Linked DNA regions of Homo sapiens. The protein of the gene in region 3 purifies or fractionates together with the protein of the main gene of each other region. This does not show direct contact. Each region holds a gene or a part of one and is shown on either strand. Other genes may lie near its edges.

Region 1 (3,500 bases), on a different chromosome or scaffold from region 3:
CTTGGGATCGTAATTCCATAAGGGCAGGAACAAGATCTGTTTGGCTCCACAGTGAAACGGAGCTCTGCATAGAAAGGTGCTCAGAGCTCAGTCCGGTGGGGAGACAAATAGGTGAAGGAAGAGATACCAAGCCCTGTGGGGAGTGCTCTGTGAGGACCAAGCCCTGTGGGGAGTGCTCTGTGAGGTATGTGTGGACAAAAGCACTAGACAAGAGATAACTCAAACAGCCTGGGGTGGGAGGTGGGAGCTCAGGGACTCTTCCTGAACAAAGATACAGCTAAGCTGCAGGACTGCAGTGCAAGGCGGGCAGGAGGTATGCAGGGTATATAGGGAAGAGTGTATGCAAAGGCCCCAAGGCAGGATCTCTCTCTTCATGAAGCATCTACTGTACAGCAGGCACTGTGCATGATTATTCTGTTAAGGAAAGAGAGCTGAAATAGTCCTGACCTTGACCCGGAGACCATGAAGATAACTCGGGAGGCTCCCAACACCATGACAAGGAGGGGACACCCCATCCCTGGCTTCCTGCTGGTGAGCCCTTGTTCATCCTTCAGGACTCAGCTTCTCCGTCCCCCCCTGTGGGAAGTCCCACCCACATTTCCCAGGCTGAGTCCTGGCAGGAGGGATACTGTCCCTTGTAGTGCTGAGTGATTACGGTTCTGTTCTCAGCAGAGGCCACGAGGACTATCCCAGGGTTGTGCCCTGTGTGGGCACCACACGTCACACACATGCAGACATACTCACTTTAGTGTCGGACCTGGGCAGCAGCTGCAGCCCGCTGCCCCGGTTGCCAATGATATCGTTTTCAATGACGATGGTGCTGTCGCCCTTGGTGATAATGCCGTGGCCTCTGTTGTCATAGATACCATTGCCCCGGAGCTCCACTTTGCACTGGGCCTCAACCTTGACCCCACTTTGCCGGTTGCAGGAGATGCTGTTGTTGGCCACTCGGGTGGGTTGGCTGCTCTGGGCCACAGTAATGCCTCTGTCCCCATTCGCGTGGATCACATTGGTGATGACATGCAGTGCCTCGCTGCTCTGGACATAGAGTCCTGAGGCTATGGGTGGAAGGGTTGGAAAGCACAGGGGGTCCCAGGGTCAGCCCTGACACCACCAGTCAGGAAAAGCCTTCCCTGAATTGTGCACTCCGGGAGAACGGAGTGGAGAAGAAGAGGTACCAACACTCAGAAACAACCCTTGAGTTTGCGTCTTCCAAGCTGATGAAACAGCAGGAGGAAATCCAGGTGCGTCAACAAAACTCTGGTTCTTCTGCATGAAGTCCTTATTCAGTGTAGCCAGGGAAACACCATGTGAGAAGGCTCCTCTGGCCTGAGCTCCCACCGTGTGCTTGAATGCCTCCTGCACCACCGCCATCCTACTGCCGCTTACACCTCCCTGACGGGGTGCTCACTGCCGCCTCAAGGCTGCTCACTCCCCCTCTGGACAGGCAGATCTACTCATTAGAGGGTTTTGCTTTGCTCTCCTTCCTACACTAACCTGGAATCTGCCTCCCTACTGTTTGGGGAAATTTTCTTTTTTTTTTTTTTGAGACGGAGTCTCGCTCTGTCGCCCAGGTTGGAGTGCGGTGGCGCCATCTCGGCTCACTACAAGCTCCGCCTCCCGGGTTCACACCATTCTTCTGCCTCAGCCTCCTGAGTGGCTGGGACTACAGGCACCCGCCACCACGCCCGGCTAATTTTTTGTATTTTTAGTAGAGACATGGTTTCACCGTGTTAGCCAGGATGGTCTCGATCTCCTGACCTCGTGATCCACCTGCCTCGGCCTCCCAAAGTGCTGGGATTACAGGCGTGAGCCACCATGCCTGGCCGGAAATTTTCTTCTTAATGTAAGTTCTGTAATTTTGGAGTACAAAAACTTACTAAGCGAGTAATATGTGTCAAAAATGTGTTTGAAATTTGGGAAAGGAAAACTGACGCTTGCGGTTGTGTGTACTTAGAGACACTAGGTACATGAGGAGAAAAACCCCAAGTCAGCAGGATTAGAGCTCCATGGCTTGTCAGGAAAAGAAAGCAGGGCAGCCAGACCCGGGGGCGAGGAGAGGAGGGCTCTGCGGTAGGTCCCTCTGCCCACCAACAGCAACAAGGGTTGGGGCAGTGCTGGGGGAGGTTGTGTGCAGGACAATGACTGGGGCCCTGCAGCAGTGTCTGGAGCCATGAGCCTGCAAGCTCAAATCTCTTGGTGGCACCAGCCTGTTGCTTCTCCTGGCTTGGTTGAGAACAACAAAAATAAGTATTTGTGAACGTAGGTGGCTTTGCCTGTCGTACCGGACAGACAGCATGGCCACATGGAGGAACCTCTGACCTGGGAGGAGACAGAACTCATTTTCTGAATAAGTGGGTTGGGGCTGCTGGTTATCCATCTCCCTGTCCTCTACCACTACCAGAAGCAAGTGCTTACCAGGCCCAGGAATCTCTTTTAATTTTATTTTGTTTTAGAGACAGGGTCTTGCTCTATTGCCCAGGCAGTAGTGCAGTGGCACCATCATAGCTCACTGCAACCTCGAACTCTGAGTCCTGAGCTCAAGCATCCTCCTACTTCAGCCTCCCTAGTAGTTGGAACTACAGGCATGTACCACCATGCCCAGCTAATCTGAAAAAAATTTTTTTTTTCTCAGTAGAGATTGAGGTCTCTCTATGTTGCCTAGTCTGGTCTTGAACTCCTAAACTCAAGCGATCCTCCTGCCTTGGCCTCTCAAAGTGTTAGGGTTACAGGTGTGAGCCACTGCGCCTGGCCCAGGAATCTGTTCTGAATAAGCCTTCCTCCATTTCCCGACCCACCCATCCATCCTACCCTCCCACCCCCACCCCACAGTGATTTTGATAATCAGGAGGCTTTGGGAGCCCTGGAGTTAGGTGAACTACACAGTAATTATTTTTTTTTAATTCAAGAAATATCAAACATCTTCTACCATCTTTTTTTTTTTTTTTTTTTTCCTTTTAAGACAGGGTCTTGCTCCTGTCACTCCTGAGCTCTGAGCACCTAGAATACCGTGGTGCAATCACACCTCACTGCAGCCTTGAACTCCTGGGCTCAAGCGATCCCCCCGCCTCCTGAGTAGCTGGGACCACAGGCACATGCCACCAGATCCAACTAATTTTTCTTTCTCTACTCCTTCTTCTTCTTTTTTTTTTTTTTTTTTTTTTGTAGAAACCAAGTCTTGTTATGTTGCCCAGGCGGGTCTTGAACACCTGGCCTCAAGCAATCCCCCAGTCTTGGCCTCCCAAAGTCCTGGGATTACAGGCTTGATCCCTGGCACCTGGCCTCCATTTTTCATCAGGTTTAGGATAACATGGATTTAAAACACTTTTATTTTCTGCCTCTCTAAGAAGGAAAACTCACTGCCAATTAAACCATGATATGCATCTCGTGGGAGATGTTGAATTTTGAGAAATGTATCCTAGAGTTGATTAAAAGCATGTGTGCCAGAGGTGGGATTTGGTACTGCAGGGACAGGGGCACTGAGCTGGGTGGGCTTCAGT
Region 2 (3,500 bases), on a different chromosome or scaffold from region 3:
GCGTCTTGCTAGACAAAGCCATGGCTGGACTCGATTGAAAATACCCCAGTATCTTCCTAGAGATGAGCCAACAAGTTCAAGAGATCTGTGAGGCCCTCCAGCAGGGCGGCAGCGGGCCAGGCCGGGACCCTGGGGTCCGCCCCCAGGCCTCTGTGCCTGCTGGAGGCTGTCCATACAGGAGTGCCCTCCAGAAAGACAGTGCCTGGAAGGGCCTGGGCATCTAGCTAAACCATGTCACCACATGGGGATGGGAATTAAAGCAAGGCAGCTTTGACAGGCTGAGTATCCCTTATTCCTCACTGGGGATCAGAAGTGTTTCAGATTTCAGATTTTTTTGGATTTTGGAATATTTGCAGAATACACGCCATTGGGCATCCCAAATCTGAAAATCTGAACTACAAAATGCTCCAATGAGCATTTCTTTTGAGCATCATGTTGGTACTCAAAAAGTTTTGGATTTTGGAGCATTTGGGATTTTGGATTTTTGGATTCGGGATGCCCAACCTGTACCCCCTTCCAGATGGGCACCCTCTAAAAAGCCTGGTAATGCCCAGTTATGGTGGAGGATGGGGAAGACAAACAGGCCCTCACATGTATCTGGTTGGTGGCCAGGTAAAAGGGTACATTTCAGGGGGCCAGTTGGTCAGGATGTCACAAAATCAAGGGTTCCTAACCTTGGACTTAGAAGGTCCACTTCTAGGAACTCACCCTAGGGAGAGGCAACCTTCACAAAAGACACAAGAGAAGGGGGCTCTTGGCAACATTCTTTTTAACAGCCCCAAACCAGAAACAACCTAAAGCAATAGCAATAGGGCACAGGGACTCAAAAGGGGCCACAGCTACTCAAGGGAGAACACGGCAGAGGTGGATGAATAAAGCGCGGAACGAAATCCAAGATACGCTATTAGTGAAAGAGCAAGTCACGGAACAGAATGCATGGAGCCATCTGCCTTCACAGAAACAAAGGCGTGTGTGGGCTTGAACTGCCCTGGAAGCGTCCAGAAGTAGTAAGAGTGGTCACCTTTGGGGGTATTTGGAGTTTGGGGAGGAGGCTATTTTGCCTCTCTATATACCCTTCTATACTGTTATATTTGATGGGCATGTTTTACTTTTATAATTTAAAAACAAAACTGAGACAAAATTAAGGGGGAAAACAAAATTAAGGAGAACAAAGGGAAACTGGTGAGAGTCTCTAGGGTGGACAAGGGCCCTCTGTGCTTTTTACTGCCACAGATCGAGCCCCAGGGAATGGGGGTGTGTTCTTTGACAAGGTTCAGTGAGCAGAACCTTGTTCAGACCCCCAAAGTCAGAAAACAACCTCTCCACTACATTCACATCCCTAATTACTCCACAGGCTCAGACCAAATCCTGACCAACGAAAGGTTCCCTCACAGTGAAAGGCTGCTGGCCTCTCTCTGTTTTTATTTTTTTTGAGACAGACTCTCACTGTGTAGCCTAGGCTGGAGTGGCCCAGGCTGGAGTACAGTGGTACAATCTCAGCTCACTGCAACCTTCACCTCCCAGGTTCAAGCGATTCTCCTGCCTCAGCCTCCTGAGTAGCTGGGTGTGCGCCACCATACCCAGCTAATTTTGCATTTTTAGTAGAGACGGGGTTTCGCCAGGTTGGCCAGGCTGGTCTCGAACTCCTGACCTCAAGTGATCATTCTGCCTTGGCCTCCCAGGGTGCTGGGATTACAGATGTCAGCCACCGCGCCCGGCCTGGCAGCCTCTCTTATAGTGGAAACAGCCCTCCTGCGGATGAAATGAGCTGATTCCCTGAGCAGGGTCTTGATACCATTCTCCGCCCCCCGCCTCCTCTCTGAGACCCCTTGGCGGGATCCACTGCTGTGTGTGTGCACCCTCGGGTGGCAGCCAGCTGCATGACAGGCACCTTGTAGGTGTACAGCCCTGAGCACCATGTACACGTTCACCCCTCCTCTGCAAGCTGAGCTTTGGGCACTGCCTGATGGCTGGCCAACTGGGGTTCCGTACAGAGGTTCCAGCCTAAGGGGCCAGTCAGTCACCCTCTGCAGGGTGAGCTTTGGGCCCCTGGGCTGTTTTTCCTATTTTCTAATTTGTCTGTCCAGAGGGGACATCTTTTTGTCCTGGTAGAATTTTCCCCTCCCCGGGCCAGAGAGCCTCTGGTCAAGGTCACCAATGACCTTTCATGGTGGAGTGTTATTCTCAGATGACCTGCTGACCAACGGTGACTCCCTCCTTTCCCCTGGAAGCCCTTTCTGCCCAGGGCTTCCAGGGCACAGCCCTCCCAGTGCTCCTGACCTCAGGAGTCACTGCTTCTCCCTGACCACTTAAATGCTGGAGAGACTCAGAACTCAGTCTGTACACCTGGTCCCTTGCCTAGCAACTTTAAATACAAGTGTACAAGTGTCCCAAATAAATCTCTGCAGCCCTGTCCTCTCCCGTGCCCTCCAGATTCCTCTATCCAAGTGCTGCCTGACGTCACTAATACCTTGAAATTAACGCAGCCAAAACCCAGCTCATGCCCATCCCCCCAACACTCCTGTCTCCCTTTAGGGCAGCTCTGTCCCAGTTATCAGGCCCATGGGACGGTGAGCCTGACCTCCTCTCTTTTTTTTTTGAGATGTAGTCTTGCTCTGTCGCCAGGCTGGAGTACAGTGGCGCGATCTCAGCTCACTGCAACCTCCACCTAGCAGGTTCAAGGGATTCTCCTGCCTCAGCCTGCCAAGTAGCTGGGATTACAGGCGCCCGCCACCACACCCAGCTAATTTTTTGTATTTTTAGTAGAGATGGGGTTTCACCATGTTGGTCAGGCTGGTCACGAACTCCTGACCTCAGGTGATCCACCCTCCTCGGCCTCCCAGAGTGCTGGGATTACAGGTGTGAGCCACCGTGACCAGTCCCTCCTGTCTTTCTTTGTGCCTCTACATCCATTTAGCAGGAGGAGAAAAGTAACCAGTGAGGGGAAGGGGAGCGGGGAAGGGGAAGGGAGGCCGAAGATGGAAAGAATTATTTTAGATTTTACTAATTTAGAAGTTTCTATACTTCGGAAATTATTGCTAACTGATTTAACATCTAAAATAAGCAGATCAATTTAGGGCTTATATTTAGGATTCTCATTGTATAAATTCTAATAAAATTGTATTTTTGTGTGTGTGTGGTTTTTTTTTTTTTTTTGAGCTGGAGTCTCACTCTGTCACCCAGGCTGGAGTGCAGTGGCGTGATCTCAGCTCACTGCAATCTCCACCTCACAGGTTCCAGTGATTCTCCCACCTCAGTCTGCCTGATTACAGGCACCTGCCACCACACTCGGCTAATTTTTTGTATTTTTAGTAGAGATGGGGTTTCACCATGTTGGCCAGGCTACTCTCCTGCTCCTGATCTCAAGTGTTCAGCCCACCTCGGCCTCCCAAAGTGCTGAGATTTCAGGCGCAGAATTGCTTGAACCCAGGAGGTGGAGGTTGTAGTGAGGCAAGATCATGCCACTGCACTCCAGCCTGGGCAACAGAGCGAGTGACTCC
Region 3 (4,132 bases):
CTATCTATCTACCACTTGATTTTTCTTTCTTACTCTTTTTTTAGACCTGCATCCTTAAGGATGGATCTGTAAATGCACAGTATTTCCTCGAGTCACTTAAAAATATTACTTAACAGCATCAATCACCATTGAATGAAATAACTCATTGCACCAAACTTTGCCACTCAAGTTAATTTCACAGCACATATTATAAAATAATCCTTTGATTGAAGGATGATGCTTTATAATAATATCTTGAGTCTGTTCACACACTCCGAAGGAACAGCTTCAATAAGAGTAAATTGCTGCTGAAGACAAACCAACTGGAAAAGATACTTGCTTTTTTTTTTTTTTTTTTTCTTTTAAGGTTTTCACAATGGCTTCAAAGGAAATGCGAATTAATCATTTGTTTTGACCCAAGAGCAGCAGAACTTATTTTGGAGACAAACAGGCGACACAAACGTAAACAGAAATCTGGGACTCCCAAATGCTAAAGTTGAAAGGAGTTAGTCTGAAAACACCAGTTCTACTCAGCGTTTATTTTTCATTTGAAGATAGTGGAAATCGTAGAAATCATGGACAATACAAGTTGGTCTTGCCTGGTAAATGTCCACATGAATCTGTTAGCCTCTAAGTACAGGTACAGTATTTTTTTAATAGAAAGACAGGGCAATATGGCAGTTAATTAGCAACCAATACTGTCAACTACAGTGGATACAAAGTTTTATCATATAAATTAATTGCCATTACAAAAAGGCAACTGCTTTAGCTAAGAAGGTACAAAAACTGGAAACGTCCATAAATATTACAAGAAGCTAGGTGAAGAAATACATAACAGACTGTTTTTCCTATATAATATTTGAATATGCAAACCAAGACACCTGTGGCACTTTACATGAAAGTAGGAAAAGGGACTTACACTCCCACCCCCAGCCATCCCACCCACCCCACCACCCACCCACCCATCCCCACCCGTTCAGGCCCCACCCCGCCCCCACGTGGATTTCCAAAACATGGCAAATTCTAGGGTTACAAGGACAGGATGCCGCGCGGAAGCAGCAAGACAGCGAGCTCCGACCTGCTAGACAAAGAGGGAGCCTTATTGACAGTTGTAAAGCATTAGGCGTCAGACAGAAACTTGTCAAAAACAGCTGTTGTTGGGTACTGATTGATAATGTTTTCATTCTGACGGCTGAGACGCTGCAGACAGTCGTGGGTTTGAGGAGAGGCCCATCACTGGCGCACACATGAACACACACACGCAGACCACGGGAAGTCATTTAACAGATGGCTTAGGAGCACTCAGCCACGGTGTCTTAAAAAGACAACATTCTACATTTAATGAACTTGCAGGGAAAGCAAGGCCTAATAATCATTTATTTTTCATAGAAGATGAGCACAACAGGACAAAATAAAAACAGGAATTGTGTAACTGGTCATCGGAATAAAAGTTTTGTGCTGCTCAGGGATTACACAGTGTTAAAAATATTCAAGAATGCTGCAGACAAAATTGTATACGAATCACTATGTATCCTTCCTGATTCATGACATTAAAAAAAAAAAGCTTAAAGAAGTGTTTGATGTTTCAAAGGTAATGATTTCATTACAATCTACTCATAAGATTAAACCACAAAAACTACATTTAAATGGCATTAAGGGTCTGAAGTCTATCTTCTGGAGAATTACCAGGTATTACATCATTCTGTAATATAGTGTGAGTCTGTGGTATTTGGGTATCAGTCCATTTTACTTAAAATTACAAACATGTTTTTACACTCATGTGCAGGGAGCAGTTTTTTTTATCATTTGGCCACTTAGTATTTTAAGTGGTCAAAGTCTACAAAGTATGCCAAAGAATATTTCATCTGTGAACCTCAATATGCATAGATTTTTTTCCTGATTTAGAAAAGATCAAAGGTGCTAAACCTTAGTAAAACTGTACATTTATCCCTATGCAATTTTGTCATTTAAATTAAATGGAAAAAAAACTAGTTCCAAAGACTGAATATGAGTCCCAATATTATTTATTTGCTGCAGCCCCAGCACAATTTTAAGGGCACATTGAAACCCCTGAAAATAGAGGTTTATAATAGAAATACTGATAAACCTTTAACTACTAGAGGAAGGCATTAACAGATTCCAATAAACTACAGTAACACGTAATGAATGAATATATAGATGATTCTGTCTTTGTTATCTTTGTCAAATCCATGCCATCTTAAACCCTAACCAGTATAAATTATACTTTTTCTGGCTGTTTTTAAAATTTTTATCTATTATTTTAAAAATTATTTTCTCTATTTTAATCAAACACTTGAAGTTTTTAGAAAAAGATACCTATGTTACATTGCAGCTTCACTTTATGCAGGCTCATCATTCCATTAAACAATATTTGAAGACTCGAATCAATCAAATACAGTCTGTGATGCATGCATTGTACCTAAATTTCCTCTAACCACTCTCAGAAACTGAAACAATGTCTTTGCTCTTAAAAGAGAAGAGACTTCAGATGTAATCAAGAAAACATTGTGTAACTTGCCTCTAAGCTCTTCAGAGCCAATTTTACTATGGCAGGATATTCCTTCCTGATAAGGTGATTAATGAAGTTTTTGGTGCTCACTTTTCTCTCATAGTCTATAAGCTCAGTATACCAAAAAAAAAAAAAAATTAGATAAAATAAAACAAAACCCCCAATAGGTCTTGAAAATAATATAAATATTTTGTGGAGTCCCAGTCACATAATACTCCACTCCCAAACCCAGAGAAAATGATCAAGGTCTTGTGAGTCTTTCTGAGTCCTTCAAAAGGGATTTGATTTCCATAAGCCATGAATTCCATCCGTTTCAGCACAGAGTATAGAAGAGATGCTTAGAACAACAGAAGGAAGAGACATGCGGGGAAGATAATTAGTGGTAAACAGAGAATAAATTCTCTCTCAGTAGTGTGTACTTGACGTTAATGCCGATGATAATTCATCTGATCTACAGAATATTCACTTTAATAGAGAGATGAGAGTCTGAAATGACCAGAGGAAAATAGATACTGAAGCCAATATAGTCTTGATACCAAAATAAAATTAAAATGAGAAACTAACATGATAGGTTCAAGGCCTTTTGGGAGCCTGTTTTCTTTGCCAGATTTCACATTCTTACAGCTTCATGGTCTTTTTCTTCTAACAAATTAATCAGCTGAGAGAAGCTGTCTTTCAGTGCATCCATGTCATCCAGTGAGCAGGGCTGTAGAATCCAGCGTTTTCCACGTGCAAGTGGTTCAAGTTCAAAATATTTTTTGATCTTAAGAGGAAAAAATAAAGATAAATAGGTTATTAATTATATCAGAAACTTTCTCATATCAAAATTCTGAGGGATAAAGTAGGGGAATTTCGAGGCGGAATTTATACGAACTGTGATGCCTACAACTTTGCAATGTGGATGCCTGTCCGCAGCTGTTGTTATAATGTGGGTTATATATTGTGACCTGGGAGTGTTTTCTTTAGAGGTGAATGATCTGCGTGCAAGCCACCATTCCACCCATACATTTAGCAGCGTGGGAGGTCTGATGAAGTCAGAGAAAAAATTATTTGCACTATGGCACCAGTCAAGATACATTGCAGACACCAAAAGATTCGATTTCATCAAAATAATTAGCAGAGTAGCTTTCACTATCTCACCTTGCCAACTTATTAAATGGGTGACGACTTACAGTAGGTACTATATTGATTACTCAAGACTCAATTATTTTGACCATCAAGCACATAACACAACAAAAATCTAATTTAAATAATCTTCTTCTCTTTCTCTCTCAAATTTCTAGTATCTGCTTCTGAGACATGAGAGCGTGTTTTCTAGGAAAGAGGATAGAAACTGCATGTATGTATGTTTGTATGCATATACACACTTACATAAATTTACATATATGCGTAAAATCTTCTACCTTTTTTTTTCTTTTTCAGTCCTGAATTTTCTAGGATGGAAAAAGCAAGAACTTATAATAGGTATGTGCTGAAAAACCTGTTCAATTAATAACCAGTCACAAGTCACTCTTACTATATTGGCCAGCATACTGACTAACGGCATTTAGTATTACCAATTCCTGGCTGTGAATAAATAGCAAATTATTATGGCTTCTAGAAGTATTGATGATCTTCTCTCAA
Region 4 (3,500 bases), on a different chromosome or scaffold from region 3:
AGATGAGGGGAAAGCAAGGTTAACACTGGAAATGCAAGCCTGTTCCCCAACACAGTCTTTTGCTCCACCAACAGACACGTGAGCAAGAATTAAATGCCACCTTGTATTTTAGGGCTAATTCACAATTCATTCAGCTCTCAAAATACATAGTTTACTTTTATGGTACACATTTAAAGGTGGGGGAACTCACAAAAGGAAGAGCCTGCAAAGAGAAGCATCTTCCATGGGGAGATTCTATGAATTAGTTGCTTCTGTTCTCTCAAGCTTTCAGTTAAGAGTATATACCAGTCAGAGGAGAATACTATCACTTTAACCTTCACTTTCCAATGTTCTGTGCTATTATTTTTTATGTCTTAAGCATGCCATATAAAGCATAATATTATAAAGGCTAAAAGTATGTGTACAAGTTTGAGTGACATACTCAATGTGGCAAATGAGTGTATGTATGAAACATATATATGTATGCATGTCATATGCAAGAGTTATCATAAATTATATATATAAGAATTATTATGCCACCAAATAACCTTTATTTCACATAATCAAACAAAGCACTTCTAGACTAAGTGCTAGGCAAAAGCCGATCATAAACTCGTTCTCAATATTCTTAGTACTGGAACCAAGATATCCAGGCCTTTTTGTTTCCAGGGTCTAGGATTCTTCACTCTATTCCTTCTCCAAAAATGTGCAGGATGCCGATAAGAGCTGGGAGGGTGAACTCTGGAGTCACCTTAGTTTAGGGTGAGGTAGATTATGCTGGAGGACTAGGAATAGCACTGTGGCCAAAGCTCACCAGGGGTAGCCCAAGTCACTGTGAGGAAGACATCAACCTGCCCTTCAGAGGTAGAAAGGCACAGATGGAGAAAACAACCTTTTATACAGATTCACACTCTTTTCCCTGCCTCATCTCACAGAGAAAGAAAAAAACTGAGTAGCACGCTTAATGGGAAGGACCTCATATAAAAATTGATGTATTACCTAAAATCCCTCTGTAGTCATGAGAAAAATGGTCCCCCATATGGTACCTTATATGGCAGAGGGAATTGGAGGATGTGATTCAGTTAAGGACTTTGGGATGGGGGGATTATCCTGATGGGCCCAATGTGTTCATATAGGGTCCTGTCTGGGCTGTGGTCAGAGGGACATGTGGCTTTGGAAGAACGGTCGGAGAGAAGCAACATTGCTGGCTCTGATGGAGGAAGGAAGCCGAGGAATGCCGCCAGCCTCTACAAGCTGCAGAGACAAGGAAACAGACTCTCCCCCACAACCTCCAAAGAGAAACGCATGCTGCCATCACCCTGATCATAGTCTGGCCTGCAGAACCAGGAGTGAAAGATAATACATATGTGTTGTTTTAAGCCACCACGTTCGTGAAATTTCTTAACAGCAGTAGTAGGAAGCTAATATACCCGCCAAGTAGAGATTGATTAATTTGGTTAATAAACAACAACTCCTAGGAAAAAGAATGACTCATATCCTAATGCAAGTCAGTGTAACCACCATGCTTTCTGAATCTGAGTTCCAGGATACTGCAGAACAAAGGCTTATGCAAAAAGGGCAAGCCAGGAAGGACTTAATGGCAATTTCTGGCAGTTAAAGCATTTTTCTGTGTTTGGAAAAAAAAAGAATTCAGGCAGGGGGTAAAAGATAGAAGCTCCAAGAGACAGAAAAAAAAAGTTAAAATGGATGGGAAAAGACCTTTCACATCACCCTAAACCAGCTGAGAGCCAATCCCCCTCCCCTACTGTCTTTGACAGCTGAGCATCCATGTACAGGTGGGAGGTATACACTCTCAGGCACAATCTTAAACCAGCCCAGCCTGGCTCTCCCATCTAATGCAGAGGAGAGGCCCACCTGAGCTTAGAAATGCTCCACAAACCTAAGCTCATTCATTGCTTAAAGAACCAGCTTCACCAAAAGTACTTGTAGGGAGCACCAGAGAAAGCCCATGACAGCTGGGCAGCAGGGTACTTAGAGGACAAGGAAGTCACGCTACTAATGTCACAAGAATGATGGGATTTTTCTCTTCACTTATTCAACATCTCTATACCAGGTGCAAGGCAATGCTATGCGCCAAACGTGGAATGTTCATGCCAATACAATAAAGTTACTACTTAAATTTTAAGATGTGAGTGAAAGAAGCAAAAGGCTACAAAAGCTGACAGCCAAGCAGAATAAACTGATTGTTGTTAGAAAAGAAATTATGTTCTGTTAGAGAGCCTTTGTTGTTTTGCTTCACAAGTCATGTGCTACCACAGTAGGTGCTCCTTTGGGCTGTTAGTAGATGAACTGGTTCATAAGCAACCACATTGGGGTAACCAGCATCATACTGCCAAGCTCTCCACCAGAATGATGGCTCAGCACACTACAGCAGGAAGTAACAGAATTATAAAGGAAAAAGGGAGGGCATACCTGAGGCTCAGGTTCTCTGTCTGGCATTACCCCAAAATGACTTAAAATTTGTTCTTTCATGCGATCCTGGAGAGACGCGAACCAGGAAACAGACTGTTGATGCACAGAATCGTGGAGAGCGGCAAGTTCTTCATACTCTGGACCCTCCACCTGATCAGGGAAAGAGGCACAGCTGTGTGAACCATTCACAGTAATGCACGTAACACAGTCAGCGACCTCTGCACCTCCACTAAGTGGATTTGTGGCAGTTAGCATTTTAATAATTCATCAGTTTCACAAAAATGGTACATGCTCAATATAGAAATCTGCATTTTTTGCATAGTTGAAATCTATCAATTGTATCCTGATTTTTCTCTTAATACCATAATATAAGCACATTTCCTGTAATTTTGAATAATGTTCAATGGCTGCATGCAATTATATATTTGAGATACATGCCAATTTACTTAACTATTCACGTAAGTTATTTAGAATATTCTAGCTTTTTTATTTTTAAAAATAACACAATAATATAAACATTTATGGAAAAGTTGTTTTGTTTTGTTTTGCTTTTTTGACAAGGGAGGGAGGTATGGTTTCCTCAGTGTAGTTTCCTAGAGACCTTGACAGAATTACCAAGTCAAAGGGTGACATTTTAAAAATTGTATTCCATATCACCAAACTATATTCCTAAAGGCACGACAGGGCAAGACTACACTCATTACATTGGCCTGGGCTGATGGACTCCAGCTTGTGGTCGGCCACAGCACCTTAGACTGACCAAGCTTGGCCTCTGGTCCCTATGTCACTATCACATCTGTCATTTAAATTACGCCTCAGTCCTGTTCAGGAACACCTGGTAGAGGAGGAAGAGCATGGGACTGGGAATCACGGGGCCAGGGTTTGGTCTGGCTTCATCACCAACTCTCATGTGTGAATCTAGCCAGTCTCACAGCCTCGTTAGGGCAGAGTTTTCTCATCTGCATAATAGGAATAAACCATGAAGGTCCTTTCCTGTTACAAAATTCCAGTACCTACAAAAACTACGGTGTGCTGAGAAATTATAATATAATGCATATACCACCCTCAATTTGATTTATACAAATCAA

The links.
Region 1: the proteins of ARL15 (region 3) and FBXO10 purify together in Homo sapiens (affinity purification with mass spectrometry; 2 studies listed by BioGRID and IntAct, with this or other methods). This does not show direct contact.
Region 2: the proteins of ARL15 (region 3) and CNNM4 purify together in Homo sapiens (co-immunoprecipitation; 3 studies listed by BioGRID and IntAct, with this or other methods). This does not show direct contact.
Region 4: the proteins of ARL15 (region 3) and LONRF2 purify together in Homo sapiens (affinity purification with mass spectrometry; 2 studies listed by BioGRID and IntAct, with this or other methods). This does not show direct contact.

What each region holds. Positions count from the first base shown.
Region 1 is NC_000009.12:37,517,381-37,520,880, forward strand, and holds part of FBXO10 (F-box only protein 10), read right to left. Parts: intron 1,059-3,500; coding exon 745-1,058; intron 1-744. UniProt on the Homo sapiens protein: Substrate-recognition component of the SCF (SKP1-CUL1-F-box protein)-type E3 ubiquitin ligase complex. Mediates the ubiquitination and degradation of BCL2, an antiapoptotic protein, thereby playing a role in apoptosis by controlling the stability of BCL2.
Region 2 is NC_000002.12:96,791,902-96,795,401, reverse strand, and holds part of CNNM4 (metal transporter CNNM4 precursor), read right to left. Parts: intron 1-3,500. UniProt on the Homo sapiens protein: Probable metal transporter. The interaction with the metal ion chaperone COX11 suggests that it may play a role in sensory neuron functions. May play a role in biomineralization and retinal function.
Region 3 is NC_000005.10:53,883,442-53,887,573, forward strand, and holds the end of ARL15 (ADP-ribosylation factor-like protein 15), read right to left. Parts: intron 3,273-4,132; coding exon 3,120-3,272; 3' UTR 501-3,119; downstream 1-500.
Region 4 is NC_000002.12:100,284,502-100,288,001, forward strand, and holds part of LONRF2 (LON peptidase N-terminal domain and RING finger protein 2), read right to left. Parts: intron 2,563-3,500; coding exon 2,413-2,562; intron 1-2,412.